Regions from separate parts of the Homo sapiens genome. Here regions 2 and 3 are each reported to be linked to region 1. The links are microRNA targets in miRTarBase. Many come from high-throughput screens and were not tested one by one. Region 1 holds a microRNA gene; each other region holds the end of a gene's coding sequence. Distances are from middle to middle.

What was found. Region 1 holds the annotated microRNA hsa-miR-205-5p (UCCUUCAUUCCACCGGAGUCUG, at 3,153-3,174, shown strand). A microRNA usually pairs through its seed, bases 2 to 8, with sites in the 3' UTR of a target mRNA and lowers its output. Matches are read on the target gene's strand: a 7mer-m8 pairs with bases 2 to 8, a 7mer-A1 pairs with bases 2 to 7 and ends in A, and an 8mer does both.
Region 2: the mRNA of TCF20 is a reported target of hsa-miR-205-5p. The part of its 3' UTR that is shown has no 7-base or 8-base seed match.
Region 3: miRTarBase lists TMEM201 as a target of hsa-miR-205-5p. The part of its 3' UTR that is shown has no 7-base or 8-base seed match.

Annotation. Positions count from the first base shown.
Region 1 is chr1:209,429,014-209,434,082 of GRCh38, forward strand. MIR205 (microRNA 205) reads left to right here and starts at 3,120; the gene lies at 3,120-3,229. MIR205HG (MIR205 host gene) reads left to right here. Exons shown (of 4, transcript NR_145437.1): 1 at 1-75; 2 at 168-395; 3 at 1,412-1,463; 4 at 3,191-3,536. RefSeq lists enhancers at 3,961-4,558, 4,559-5,069.
Region 2 is chr22:42,164,209-42,169,277 of GRCh38, reverse strand. TCF20 (transcription factor 20) reads left to right here. Exons shown (of 6, transcript NM_001378418.1): 5 at 542-669. The coding sequence ends at 625. Among named protein-coding and RNA genes, the nearest start is that of CYP2D6, 36 kb to the right of the region's middle.
Region 3 is chr1:9,612,796-9,617,864 of GRCh38, forward strand. TMEM201 (transmembrane protein 201) reads left to right here. Exons shown (of 11, transcript NM_001130924.3): 11 at 191-2,082. The coding sequence ends at 288. It overlaps LOC124903837, which reads left to right and starts at 1,869. Exons shown (of 2, transcript XM_047436734.1): 1 at 1,869-2,677. The coding sequence starts at 1,869. RefSeq lists enhancers at 2,630-3,174, 3,184-3,243.

The sequences.
Region 1 (5,069 bases):
ACAGGGTCTCACTTTGTCGCCCGGGCAGGAGTGCAGTGGCTCAATCTTGGGCTCACTGCAGCCTCAACCTCCCAGGTTCAAGCGATTCTCCTGCCTCAGCCCCTCAAGTAGCTGGGACTACAAGCGCACACCACCACGCCTGACTAATTTTTTGTATTTTTTTGTAGAGGCGGGGTTTCACCATGTTGCCCAGACTGGTCTTGAACTCCTGAGCTTAAGCAATCCACCTGCCTCGGCCTCCCAAAGTGTTGGGATCACAGGCGTGAGCCACCGCATCCGGCCTCATGTTCTTTTTCATTAAAGAGAGAAATCAACTATTCAGGACCGGCCCCCACCTTTCCTCAGGAGTCATTTCTGTTCCGCACAGGCCTGCTGAACTGGGTGCTTTATATAGGGTAAGTGTTTCTCATTTTTTGTTCCCTGTCCTCAAGCCTTAGGGGCAAAAGAAACATCCAAGATTTGAAATTTCTTTTCTTCTTCTCATCTGCATGGCTGTAGCCATCTCTCTGTTCTGCATTATCTTATGACAAAAAAAAAAAATTCTTATTTTGAAGCAAACTCAAAGCTAGGTCCTGATGTCTCAAGGCACAGGTACTCGTACTTAAAGGTGAGTCTGAAATCTGTGGATTTGGGGAACTTTGGAAAAACAAAGATGAGTGGCTAGATCAGGGGGCTCATTGGGCAGGAAGAGGAGACTGGAAAATGCCATATTCACTGCAAGTCAATTATCAACTTCCTCCAAGGCTAAAATAGCTGAACCTGCTGCATTTTAAACCAATCCTCAGCCACTTTGGTGTTTTCTCAAGGATTTCCAGGGATCCCAGGCAGTAAATTCTGCTGATAATAGGAATTGGTGTGATAAGGTGGGTGCTGAGCAGTTTAAGCACCAAGATTGTAGCTCTGTCTGGTTTTGTGGAGATTTACTCAACTAGAAGAACAGAGATTTGGCTGGTTTTTCAGTCCTGGGGTGCAGGGTGCACCTGTACTGGAAAATTTAGGACGTGGTTTCATTCTTTGAGTCTCATGTTCAAGTTGGTTTTAATGTTATGAAGACACTTGGGACGTAATCCTGAGGGCAGCTGGGGGGAAGAAAGTGGTCACTGGATGGACTTACCCTGTAGCGAGCCCATGCATGGTTTGTTCTCTGATCGTGCATGTGCTTGGCTCTAGACCCATGTAACCATGGTGAAGGCCACTGGGGGATTCAGTTGGCAAAGGCATAGTGGGCAGAAGAATCTTGAACAAGGAGTCCAGAGCAGGTCAAGTCTCCTGATACAGGTTGTGACTCATGGTTTTTTGTCTCTGCCTGTAGCAGCTACAGGTCTGTAAAGCAAGGGGAGAGTGATAAGGAAAGAACTCACCTTTCTGGGGCTCTCTGACATTAATGCCACCTCCCATTTGCTTTTTGCAGACACTGTCATCTCTCAAGTACCCATCTTGGAGGGTACGGACCCCACATGAGGGTGAGGCTCTCTGCACACTCCAGAGTGAGGACTTTAATAATCTAGTGGACTGTACATGTTGGGAGGGGAAGAGCGGGGTGCCGAGGGTCTGGAGGGAGAAGAATTGACTGCCCCTTTTGCTCTTGGAGTTAAGCAGAAATCTAAAGAGAAGGCAAAGAATCTTGCCTTCCTGGCATCATTTCCTCCTACCATCCCAGGCCATCATTTATTTATTACAGCCAACAGACTGGCCTCTTTCTTCCCTTTGACTGGGAATGGGTCAAAGGCGGTGCAGGAGGAGGATCTGGTCCAGATAATTCACAAGCAGGGTGCATTTTCCTCTCATTATTGAGAACTGTGAGTGTTTATCAAGAAGGCAGAGCAGGAGAAGATGAACCAGTCTTCTTCCCCTCACTACCCAGATCTCTGCCTGCCAACAAGCCCCGTGTTCACCCTGGCAAAGAGTCTTTACATTCAGACCAAGGAGAGTGTGACTCCTTCTCAGCACTAGCTAGAAACCTCAAGCCCTTGCTTAAGGGCCTTTTTCAGAGAGACCCAATGCCCAGAAGGCTAGATGCGTGGGGAGGAGCCACATACGAGAAACTGCCTCCCTGCTTCGGGTCAGAACAAGCCCCAGGAAGAAAGTATTTCAAACAACAAGGTGCATCTGCCCCAACCCATCCAGCCTGCATGTTGGTGCTGAGAACAGCCTTTTATGGGGCTTGCACTGAGCCATGGGCATGTCTGAACACAACAAGGAAGAGGCCAGAGCAGCAACAGCACGCAAAGGGTTGATGGGCATTTCTTTTAAGACAGAGCAGAAAACTCTTAGATACTTTGCGTCCTTCCTATTTGACTCAGTCTATGAAAGCCAGGTTAGCTTGCTTTCTTCCTCCCTAAATCCTCCATCCTCATGACCAACAAAGAAATAGTTGAATCATTTTCCAGGCACATCTTGGGGAGGATGTGGGGCCATTGGAGGCTGTCCTTCCTAGATAAGTCTTTAGGAGTGAGAACAAGGAGTCTTACCCTCCTCTGTCCACCCACCCCCATGAATGGGCCTGGCTCCAGCCAGGAGTTGTGGTTTTTCCTGAGCTCCTCACCTATCTCTTCTGGATTTCACATTGGCAAACGGGGTTGCAAAGTGCTCTTCGTGCTCTTTGGACAGTGCCTTGTGGAGAGGAATGCCCATGCCCCTGCATTCCAAGGCCTTGGTAAGCAAGCTCAGAGTAGCTGGATTTTTCTAAAGCAATTGCAGAACACCTGCTTTTTCTTTGTTTCCTCTAGAAAGGACCAACCACACCGAGCTCAGTTATGGCACACACAGTGGGACCTAGACAAAGGGAGAGGGTGACCGACATCCCAACTAGGTAAACACAGAGGAGGTTCCACATGGACTTATCTGGGTGGCTGTTTTGAAAACGAGAAACAGTCAAGAGTCCCTGGCCCCACAGACCCACCTCCCCAACTCAGCACTGTCTGTCTGTGCAGCAGGTGCAAGGACGTGTTGAACTAGCTCTCTGCAGCCTCCTTGGAGGATGTGATCCTATGGGAGGGGTAGGAGTATTCAGGTCCTTGACATCTCCCAAATGTGTGATTCCGGGATGCCAAAGGCCTTTGGCCAGGTAATGCAGTGTCTACAGGCTGAGGTTGACATGCATCCCCACCCTCTGAGAAAAAGATCCTCAGACAATCCATGTGCTTCTCTTGTCCTTCATTCCACCGGAGTCTGTCTCATACCCAACCAGATTTCAGTGGAGTGAAGTTCAGGAGGCATGGAGCTGACAACCATGAGGCCTCGGCAGCCACCGCCACCACCGCCGCCGCCACCACCGTAGCAGCAGCAGCAGCAGCAGCAGCAGCAGCAGCAGCAGCAAGAGTAACTCTGACTTAGGAATAGAGACAGCCAGAGAGAAATGTGATCAATGAAGGAGACATCTGGAGTGTGCGTGCTTCTTCAGAGGGACGGGTGATGGGCAGATTGGAAAAAGCACCGCAGATGGGAACCTTAATCTTTCTTTTCTAAAATTGATGCTATGAAAATTTGCGTTTTCTGTAACTTGTAAAAACTAAAAGTTGCTTGTCTACTGAAAAGCCTCTCTGCCTCTATGTTTTATACCATCGGATGCCAACTCCCGGCCTTCTAAGCCACCTCCCCTTTAGGCTAAAACTGAGACATGAACTTGAAAAATTGACACTGGCTTCCTCTCTCTTTAGGGTCCCCAGGCAGGTGGCTGGGACACTATTTGCAATCAGCAAGGAACCCTGCTGCCCTTAGACTCCCCACAGAGCAAGCAGAACTTGCAGAATGGGGTAAAAACACTCTATTAAAGATTTTTTAAACCTATTTATATTGTAATAAAGTAAATGTAAATAAAATTTAAGTGAAGGCAGATTGCAGATATTTCCGATGCTATACAAGATATATCTCATAGTATGGGTGTAGATTCTGCAAAGGTTAATGCAGTTAAACATATTTGACACATAAAAATGTCAGATCCAACATTAATCATTCACCAATTGTAATTGCCTTTCTATGGGTCTCTTCTCCCCAAGACATAGCTTAAAACACCAGGCTCGGTAGAAATCTGGGAGGAAAAAAGCAAATAATACCTCTCAGCTGTCAGGGTCTATGATACGCTTTGATAGATTTAGCACTGATTTCATTCTCTTTACAATTCAGTGTGATTGGGTGTGCGTGTGTGTGTGTGTGTGTGTGTGTGTGTGTGTGTGTGTTACTCCATGTTTCTCCTTTTTAAGGAAGGAGAAGGTGTGGAACAAGAGAAAGTTCCTAAGTCTGAAGGAAGTCCAACCCAGTTATGAAGGGAATGCCATCCACAAGCCTTTTTTATAATTGGCCCCTGCCTCAGGTAAAGGGGTCTCCTTTAAGGAGCCAGTCTGGCTAAATTGGCAGATTCTGAACAAAGCCTGGCCCTGACAAGTCTTCAGAAAAACCGGTTTTCACCTCCAGAATGTGCCCCAGGCAGCAAAATACAATAGCTCTCCTTGGCTGAGTGGTGTTTTTCTTAGGAGCTCACTCTAAAGGAGATTCCAGCTTTGCAGATGGATACCGATCACTTGAATGGCCAAGCCCTGCCCCCCAGCCAGTGACCTCTGAGGGGGATAGGTCTCTTCACCTTCCCCCAACCCTTCCCTGGTTTTTGACCCCTGAGGGTCCCAGATTGCCAGCAGGAACTAAAAGGAATAAACCTTTCTCCAAAATATTTTTCTGTGTCAAGTTAATACAGATTTAAAACCTAGTTTCTGTCACCCCCACCCCTTCATTCCAAGACCCACAGGCAACAAAAGGATGAAGAAGCCAAGCCACAGGCATTTTTTAAAAACATGTTTACTCATAAAAATTGCGTAGCAAATCCAACTGTGGGGTGCTGTTTGTCCAGCAAACTCCTAGTTAACCAGCAAACACCTCCCATTCAAGGTCTGAAACAAGCCCTGAGATCAGAACAAAAAGCACACGACAGACACGATGTGGCACTTTTATTTGCAGCTTGGTTTGAGCCCTATGACCTGGAATCTTTTTATAGGAGATAAGTGCTTGTGTATTTATGTGCCACCTGGCCCAGGTGGAGGCAGGAACCAAAATGGCCAACAATGGTGACCAGAGGG
Region 2 (5,069 bases), not on the chromosome of region 1:
ATGGTCTGTTTGTGGATACCACATATGTGTGTGGGGAGGGTGTATATGGAGAAGGAGCCCCAAGAAAGGATCAGAACGGAGACCACTGCCACCTGATGTTTCCTGCAGGGGCTGCACTGTGTCTCTGGCTGAGGTCACACTGACACCTGGTGGTCACTGGTCACTCGCAGTCTTAAATCTAGTAGGGCCGAAAGTACTAGAAGGAGGTTGTCCAGAGAGGTCTGCCCTCAAAATGCTCCTGAAAGATGCTTGCTTATGCTTTTCTTTAAAAATTATTTCTGGGGAAGGGCGGGGAGTGGTCACAGGATCTTATATTCTCTTTATTTTTACTTAATTTGCATGTTATTTTTAGAACTCCCCTTTTTAAGGGTCACATTTTGCCTCAGAAAACCCTGTCTGAATGTCTCCTGTTTGTCGGTCAGGACTGACTCTGCCTTTTCTTTCCTTTTCCATGTGCCACTCCTGTCCTCCCTTTGCCCTCCCTGATTTCTGCACTGTCCTCTCCCACCTGTCTGTCTCCTCTTGGTTTTGCCCGTGTCAGCCTCCCCTTCCGTGCCCTCTCCCCCCCTTGCAGAACAAGACCGCGAAAGGCAGCCTCAGCACAGAGCAGTCGGAGCGGGGGTGAGGGGGGCAGTGTGCTCGTGGGAATGGAAAGGACAGCAAGCACAGGTGAGTCGGGGCCACCGGGCTCCCTGCATCCTGCCCGGCTCCCAGCAGGCGTCGTTGCCTCTGCCCTCCTGCTCGCTCTATGCTCTGCCACCAGCATTTCATCCTGTGGATGACAACGCCAGGTGGATGCAGTGTTCTTCCATTGGTTACTTAGCTCCCCAGATTATCTGTGGAAAGGAGTGGGGGCTTCTAAACTGTCCACTGCCAATGGGGTGCAGGGTGACTGTTCCTGAAGGCAGCCCTTCAGGGCACAGCTGGCCAGGGGTGGCCTTGTGAGTGGACACAACAGGCTTTTAGGTCTCTTTCTTGGGCAGGGCATCTCTTGCCAGTAGCCCCTGCTCTTTCCCCCGTCTCAGAAAGGGTTCCAGTCAAAGGTCTCTTCTTTTTAATTTACTACATTTCTGTAAAGCTTATGGTGTGTTTTCCTTTGAAAACAACAGAACTCTTGGGTTTTGTTATTAGAAATCTTTTTTTTCCAGTATTATGAAGGATTCCTTTTTGCAGAAGTACAAAGGAAAGAAAAATCCTCAAAGATTTAGTAGACTCTAGCATCTGATTTAATTTTACTCTTAAAAATCTCGAGGCTGGGCATGGTGGCTCATACCTGTAATGCCAGCACTTTGGGAGGCTGAGGCAGAAGGATCGCCTAAGCCCAGGAGTTCAAGACCAGCCTGGGCAACAGTGAGACCCTGTGTCTACATTAAAAAAAAAAAAAAAAATTAGCCGTGCGTGGTGGTACATGCCTTTAGTCCCATCTACTCAGGAGGCTGAGCTGGGAGGATCACTTGATCAAACCTGGAGGTTGAGGCTGCAGTGAGCCATGATCGTGCCGCTACATTCCAGCCTGGGCCACAGTGAGACCCTGTCTCAAAAAAAGAAAAAAAATTCTTGTGATTGAGTTGTGCTTGCTGTGAGTTTGTGTGGGATTATTGTGGTCACGGCCCTCTTGGCAGGCATCTGTGAAAACAGGATGATAGGACTTGGGGTCTCTAGAAGCTGCAGGCCTCTGAGCTCCATGCTGCTCCTTCACCCTCCCTGCGTCACTGAGGCATGAAGGGAAATAGGTTGTAAAGAAAAGAAAAACCAAAATGTACCTTGTGGCACTTGCTGCTACAGGATGGGGCAGGAGGACTAGTTGTCTCAGAAATATTCATTGAGGGGTCATTTCTCTCAAATGGGAGGACTTCTGTGTCGACCTCAGGAGTTTGACTCACACAGCTACGCTAGACGTGTCCCTTCCGGCACCACCATGTGCCTGACCACCTTCTGGAACGTGCCCTCCTCCTTGTTACCACTACTAATTTCCGGAGAAGGCCCCTCGGCTGCCACGCCATTTGAGAAGTCAAGTGGGGGCTGCTGAGTGCCTTCTTGATAGAGCGTTGAGTGTGGTGCCTTTCTCTTTCCTCTTCCGGGGAGTAGGGCTGGCAGTGAAGGGATCAGAGCAAAGTGGGGAGGTGGGTGGAAGCCATTCCATGTGTTCCTGGGTCAGAGGAACCAGATGAGCAAATGAAGCCTCTTGGACTTGGAGTACATTGCCACCATCAGCGAGTGGCTGCTGGTTTTCCAGAACCTGCTGGGCAGCACTGCCTGCTCCTTTTCCTGGGATTAGCCCTTAGGACAAGGCAGCCATTGCATTGCGTGGTTTTGAAAGGACTGTTTCTGTTGGCCCTCCTGCATGTCCCTACGCTCCTGAGGGTGTCACTGTGCCTTCCCATTGTCACCCCTGTGCCAGCACAGGCCAAGATGGTTAGAGTCAAGTTCTGTAGGGGACCACGATGCGTATTCCTGGAATGTGTCCTAGAAGACCTGGTTAAGGAAAGAGCTTAAGTGTTTTTTGTTTTTGTCCTGGAATTGCATCTGTGTTTGAGAAAAAGAAAGTTCAGGCCCTGGGCCTGGTGGACAAATCTCCTGGGGATTTTGTTCATCTGTTCCTCTCTAGTCATTCTTGGGCCTTCCTTCCTAGCTGTCAGGGCCCTTGACTCTTTTTTTTTTTTTTTTTGGAGACGGATTCTCACTTTGTCGCCCAGGCTGGAGTACAGGGGCACGATCTCGGCTCACTGCAACCTCCATCTCTGGGGTTCAGGCGATTCTCCCGCCTCAGCCCTCCCGAGTAGCTGGGACTACAGGTGTGCACCACCACGCCCAGCTAATTTTTGTATTTTTTGTAGAGATGGGGTTTCACCATGTTGCCCAGGCTGGCCTTGAACTCCTGACATCAAGTGATCTTCCCGCCTTGACCTCTCAAAGTGCCGGGATTACAGGCGTGAGCCACGGCGCCCGGCCAACTCTTGAACAGAACAATGAGCTTCATCCTTCTGGGTTGAAGCACAGTGATGAAGTGGCCTCACCCATTGAAGAGAGTCGTCTCAGGTCCATTGAGGTTGAACCATTCCATTCAGCTCTTGGAGGGAGAGGATGGACTCACTGCATCCAGTCCTGTCCATCTGAAATGTTTTTTATGTGCTGTTCCCACAAGGCATATAGCTTTTCCTGGTTTCCCAGTTCAGCAGTGACATTGAGGGTGGTCACCGTCCTTCATTTGTGGTAGAAGCCCTGGTGACTGGGGATAGAATCACACCTCTGACTAAAGGAGGACTCATCTTGGGCCCCATGCTGGGGACAGAGAGCCACCATTATTGGGTGCCCTGACAAGGCAGGGAACAGACAGCGAATGTGCGTGTGTGTCTGCCTCCTAGTGCGCCATGTTCTGACAGAGTGATATGATAGGTGCTGTGTGACTAAGATCAGACTACTCCATGTCTCTGTACTTCGGTTTCTTCTGTAAAAACAGGAATAGCAGTGCCAACCTTTTGAGATTCCATTGGGAAATGTCTCTAAGTGCCAGCACAGCACACTGGCTCTCAGCCCGTTGATCTGCCATGCCTAGCTGTGGGTTTCTCTTGGGAGTTGGAGGGGTCAAGGCAGCAGATTGGACCCTGCAGCTGTCTCTTATAGCAAAAAATACCCAAGGCTTGGGGTTAAAAGATGCCGCCCCTGCCTCCCAGCCTGTGAGGTATCTGGTACCTGACCCTCGCCAGGAGTGCGGAGGGGAAAAGTCCTTCTGCAGGCCCGTGGTTGCCCACTGTCTCTTTGTGCCAAGGGGGTTGCCTTGCTGGCTTGTGTCATTGGTTGGCAGGGCTTTTGACAGTGGAGTCCCTATACCCAGCTCTTCCTCCTGTCGTGAATTAAACAAGGAGGCCCCAGCTTGCCCTAACAGGCCCTGTGGTCCAGCACATGGGAAGCATAACCTTGATCAGGGCTAATGCTGCATCCTGGATGCTATGTACCCTGCACAGAACAGCCATGGATGGACGCTGAGCAAGGCAGGGAACGGGGCGTGGCCCCCCTGCCCCTGGAGCTGGACATCACACAGTCCATTTGTGTGTATGCATGAATGTCACATTCTAGAGTTCCCCTTTCCCCAAACTGGTCCAGAGGCAGTCCAGGGTTACACCTCCAGAGGAGAGCCTGAGTCTGTCCACTTTCCTTCCCCACCAGCCCCAGCCCAGGCATTGTGGCTGCTATAGTGCCCGCCTCCCTGCCACTGCTCAGCAGCCAAGTGCAATCTTCATTAGGCCTCCCTCCAGTCCTGTCCCTTCTCTACGTCAGAGATTCTTGTCATCTTCCACACAAAGCCCAGACATCTCACCTTGCCTTCCAGAGCCCTATGGAAGTCTCAGGTGACTCTCCAGGCCCCTGGCTGCCTCCAGCTCCTCAGGGACCAGGCTTCCTTCCTCTGGGCTTCTGCACACACAGTTCCTTGTGCTGGAAACACTTTGGCTCCCCATCTTCATGTTGAAAACAGGCTCCCATCTCCTGGGTCTCAGCTTAAATCCTACTTCCTCAGAGAAGCCTTTCCCTTTCTAAATCCTTGTCTCCATTGCCCCCCTCCTCGCTTGCAGCCATCCTAGCATCACCACAATTTCAGATCATTTACTTGTTTACTACCTGTCTCTCCACTAGACTGTAAGCTCCATTAGGGCAGGGACCACGTCTGTCTTTGCACCATCAAAGCCTAGCCCAGAGCGGGGCATGTAACTATGCTAGTGCCAAGTGAGTCTGTGTTAAAGAAATGAGTGCATCCCAGGCCGGGCACAGTGGCTAACGCCTATAATCCCAGCACTTTGGGAGGCGGGCAGATCACGAGGTCAGGAGATCGAGACCATCCTGGCTAACAATACAAAAATACAAAAAATTAAAACACTAAAATACTAAAAATACAAAAAATTAGCCGGGCGTGGTGGTGGGCGCCTGTAGTCCCAGCTACTCGGGAGACTGAGGCAGGAGAATGGCATGAACCCGGGACGTGGAGCTTGCAGTGAGCTGAGATCGTGCCACTGCACTCCAGCCTGGACGACAGAGTGAGACTCCATCTCAAAAAAAAAAAAAAAAAAAAGAAA
Region 3 (5,069 bases), 200 Mb from region 1:
GGAGTGGGGGTCTTTCCTGCTAGGGAAGCCTTTGGCCAAGAGAAGAATTGGGGGTGAGCCTCACCAGTCTCAGAGAGTACCCTGGGCAGAGCCTTGAGCTCCCCACAAACTGCATGCTCTAGGGGGCTGCTCAGCTGCACAGCGAACCCACCCACCCAAACAATGTTCTGACCAGGTCTCTGCTTTGCAGGTCGTTTCGGCCCTTCCCTGGTCCGGGGCCTCCTGGCCGTGAGCTTGGCCGCCAACGCCCTGTTCACCTCGGTGTTTCTGTACCAGAGCCTGCGCTGACCCACCGTTGGAGCCCCTCGGAGGGGAGCAACCCGGTGCCTGCTGCTTCACCACTGCCGGCCTCAGGACCCTCCCTGGAGGGGCTGCCACCTCTGCCCTCATCTCCAGGGCCTTGACCTCACTGGACTGTGACTGTCCTCAGGACACCTGCCCCTCCTCACCTAACGGACTGCAGGGCTGAGCATGTGTCTGAGGTCACACTCTCTGCCCACTCACCTCCTTGGCTGACATCGGTTGTGTTTGGTGCTGACACTCTGATCCCGAAGCCAGGGAGCCCCAAGGGGCTGCATGACCCTGGGGTGCCCCACACAGTTCAGCCCTGCCTGGCAGGGACGCCAGTACTACTGTAACTGCAGCAGGAGCTGCCCGGCCTGCCTTCTGGCCCCACGCCCACAGGCGTAGTCACATCTTTGTACTGTACTCCCCTGTCTCACCTGGGGCAACCTCAGAGCCCCACTAAGCTGAAGGCCCCCTGGGGGAGGGGGAAGCATGGTCCTTATCATCTGCCCTATCTTGCCCCTTCCTGTGGAGTGGGCAGAAGGGCTCCCGGGATCCTCAGAGCTCCCAGGTCTGAGCAGCCAAAGGCCCAGCTGGGCCTCCAGGACCAGCGCGAGCCCCTGCCCCACCCTCCCCTGCCCCATGTGCCCTGCTTTGTGACCTCTGTTGACCTTCCTGGAAGCAGCCCCATTACCCTGAGAATGCGGAGCGCCCTGGCCCACCTCGCCCTGTGTTTCCAGGCCTGCACGTCTGGTCCTTCAGCTGCACATGGAACTGCAGGGCAGGCTGGCGGGGGGCCTTCAGATCTCAGATGAGACTGCACCCCTTCGACCACCCTACTGGGCACCTGCCTCCAGCCCCTGAGAACTCCATCTTCCCCTAGTTCTGCCCAGGAGCCCCTGAGAACCCCATCTTCCCCTGGTTCTCTTGCCCACTCCCCTGCTGGGGCTCCTTCCTGGCACTGAGGAGGGGCGCTCCCAATGCTGTGAGGCAGCGGGGAGGGACCGTGCACCCGTGGCTATCAGAGCCCCTCCGCTGTCCCACCCTGGGCCTGGGACACGGGCCTGGGGCAGTGTGTGTCTGCTGGTCATGTGCTGGTGCCAGTTGGGGAGGAATCAGCTGTCTCGGTGGATTCTGAGACTCACTGTGGGGCGGGAAGAAGGGTCTTCACTCTGCCATTCAGGGATAAAGTTTAATTTTATTTTTCTACACATTTTGCCAGGTCAGGCATTTTGCTAGTAAGCAGGATGCCCCCAACTCTCCCTGCCATGGAGGATTCTTTTTTTTAAGCTTTGGGTGCTTTTTTAATACTTTTTTTTTTAATGTGGGGAAGGAGCTTGCTCTGACGTCACCCTCCTCTCCCCTGACTCCTGTCCTGAGAGCTGTGGATGCCGCCTCCTGCCCTGCCTACCCCTGAAACGTGGGGAATGGGGGCCCCAGGACAGCATCAGGACTTTTGAGTCCAGCTGCCAGCAATGGTTCCAACTCGGAGGCAGCGCCTCTTGGTCCCCATTTCTGTATAGCAGGCGTGTGTGTGTGTGTCGAGGTTTTTTATTTTTTGCTTAATCAAACTCCATTCCCAAATGCACTCCATCTCTGGCTCTGAGGGCGCTCCCTCCTCTCAGCCGGGCAGCCTGGCCTCTCCTGCCCAGACCTGCGGTCCCAGCATCCCCCAGAGCCAGGGAACAGGCCCAGCGGGAGGGGGTTTTATGTTTTGTTTCAAACAGAAAACACAACCTTATTTTTCTTTACAAAAGCAAAAAAGGAAACCAAAAAAGATACAGCCTTTGAATGATGCCTGCTGGCTGTCTGTATTCGTTTGCTTGGGCAGCTCGGGCCTTCCAGGTAGGGCAGGGTCCCTGCTAAGGGGGCTCTCATCCACTTTCTCTTTCCTCTTCAACGGGGGGTTCTGGAGTGGGGGGCTCGGGTTGGGGTGGCCACAGTGTGACCAGACAGTGTCCCTGGAGGGGCTTAGGGATTTGGACAGGAGACTCGCTGCCTGGCTGAGCCTGGGCCGGAAGGACACCCCAGAGTTTGCTGCGCAGAGAAGGGTGTCCAGGCAGGAAATGCTCAGCTCAGCTCTTCAGAAAAGCCTGAGCCCACCAGCCATCCCTGACCGTCCTTGCCCCTGGCTGCAGGGACCACGGTCAGGTTGTGAAAAAGACCTCGTCTTCCTCAGAGAGGGCTTAGAGCTGCTGCACGGCTCCATGCTGAGGCGGCGGGGATGGGGAATGGCCAGGGTGTCACAGCACAAGCTCTGGGGTCACCTTTCTGGTGACTGGGATCTGCATTTCTGTTGGCTTCAGTTTGACACGGGAGTAACAGGACGGCCATCCGGGGCTGATATGGGGACCCTTAAGCCACAGCACAACGCAGAGGGAGCTCTACCAAGGTGGGCTGTCATTCTGGCCCAGTGCCCAGCGGGCAGGAGGACCACAGCCAGTGAGCAGGGGGACCGGCTCCCAGGGGCCGGCAGGACCAACCTGAACCAGACCCTGAGGGCAGATGAGGGTGCAGGGCTGGGACGGCTTCCCATCAGGAGCTTCCTGCAGCGGGAGCCACAAACGCCTCTGAGCTCACTGACCTCGGGTCCTCAAGATGTTGGGAACATCATGTTTAAACCTGAGGCTCAGGCTTCCAGCAGCCCATTCAGCTCCTACCCCGGCCTGGCGAGGAGAGGCCAAGTGAGGGCAGCAGAGAGCCAAGCGCCCTCAGCTGTGAGGTTCTCCCCAACTTGGGAGCAACAGTAGTAACGCCATCTATGGTTTTCTTATCAAAAGGTAACACATTTATGTAGAAAACCTAGAAATAGAAGTGAGCAAAAAAGAAAATGCCTCATAATCCTGGCATTAAGATATTGGCATCTCTTCTTTGTGGTGGTTTTGTTTGAGACAGGGTCTCGCTGTCCCCCAGGCTGGAGTGCAGTGATGCAATCATAGCTCACTGCAGCCTCAACCTCAGGGGCTCAAACATTCCTCCTGCCTCAGCCCTCCCAGTAGCTGGGAATACAGGTGCACACCACCACACGCAGCTAATTTTTGTTGTATTTTTTGTAGAGAAGAGGTTTCACCATGTTGCCCAGGCTGGTTTCGAACTCCTGAGCTCAAGCAATCCACCCACCTCAGCCTCCCAAAGTCCTGGGATTATAGGTATGAGCCACTGTGCCTGGCCAGAATCTTCAGTAGAATAATTCACCTCTGAAGGATTATCCCAAGGGCCCACTGCAGTAGCTCATGCCTGTAATCCCAGCACTTTGAGAGGCCAAGGCAGGAGGATTTCTTGAGCCCAGGAGTTCAACAGCAGCCTGGGTAATACAGTGTAAACTCGTCTCTGCAAAAACAAGAAAATTAGCTGGGGCCGGGCACAGTGGCTCACACCTGTAATCCCAGCACTTTGGGAGGCCGAGGCGGGTGGATCATGAGGTCAGGAGATCGAGACCATCCTGGCTAACAGGGTGAAACCGCGTCTCTACTAAAAATACAAAAAATTAGCTGGGCGTGGTGGCGGGCGCCTGTAGTCCCAGCTACTCGGGAGGCTGAGGCAGGAGAATGGCGTGAACCTGGGAGGCGGAGCTTGCAGTGAGCCGAGATGGCGCCACTGCACTCCAGCCTGGGCGACAGAGCGAGACTCCGTCTCAAAAAAAAAAAAAAAAAGCTGGGTGTGGTGGCACATGCCTGTCCTCCCAGCTACTCGGGAAGCTGAGGTGGGAGGATTGCTTGAGTCCCTGGGAGGTCATGGCTGCAGTGAGCTGTGATTGCACCACTGCCCAGCCTGAGTGACAAGAGCAAGACCCTCTCTCTAAAAAATAAGATGCTAAAGCTTTTTGTGTGTTGCATTACAGAAAGGTACAGAAAAATTAGTTTCGTACTTGAGCTGAGTTTTGCTGTAGAAACCTGCCCCTGGTTCCCAGGCATCTTCCACCATGCAGTTGAAAGCTCATCAGAAGATCAGGAAGGAATTTGGAGAGGTGAAGAGAGGCAGGCAGGGTGCCCGGCACCACCCCTCTCTAGCAGAGAAGCTCAGTTTTCTTAGGCAGGGTTTCAACTGAGAAGAATTTACAGGTTACAGTAAAGAAATCATCTTGGGCCGGGTGCGGTGGCTCACGCCTGTAATCCCAGCACTTTGGGAGGCCGAGGTGGGTGGATCACCAGAGGTCGGGAATTTGAGACCAGCCTGACCAACATGGAGAAACCCCATCTCTACTAAAAAAAATAATAATAATAATACAAAATTAGCCAGGCGTGCTGGAGCATGCCTGTAGTCCCAGCTACTTGGGAGGCTGAGGCAGGAGAATCTCTTGAACCCGGGAGGCGGAGGTTGCAGTGAGCCAAGATCGCACCATTGCACTCCAGCCTGGGCTACAAGAGCGAAACTCCGCCTCTAAATAAATAAATAAATAAATAAATAAATAAGCCTTATTGGTTTTGGTAGATTTTAGCCAGCTTCTTTACTGCAAACTGTTTTATCAGTAAGGTCTTTATGACCTGTGTCTTGTGCTAACCCACTTTTTTCTGTTTTATATCAGAAAAGTCTACCGATTTTTCTTTTTTTAAGTTCAAAAACTACTATAGCATACCACCCACCATACCAACCTACTAGCCGTGTGACGCTGGACCCCTCTGTGCAACAGGAAAGGGCCTAGGTGACCCCCTGTTTCTTCTGAGGGACGATCAGAGGCAGGAACTCTCCCCCCACCCCCACCATAGGTGTCTTCTGTGGGGTCCAGAGTGGCTCTACCACTGCAAAATGCTTTCTGTGATTTCAACTGAGGATATCTTGCTACA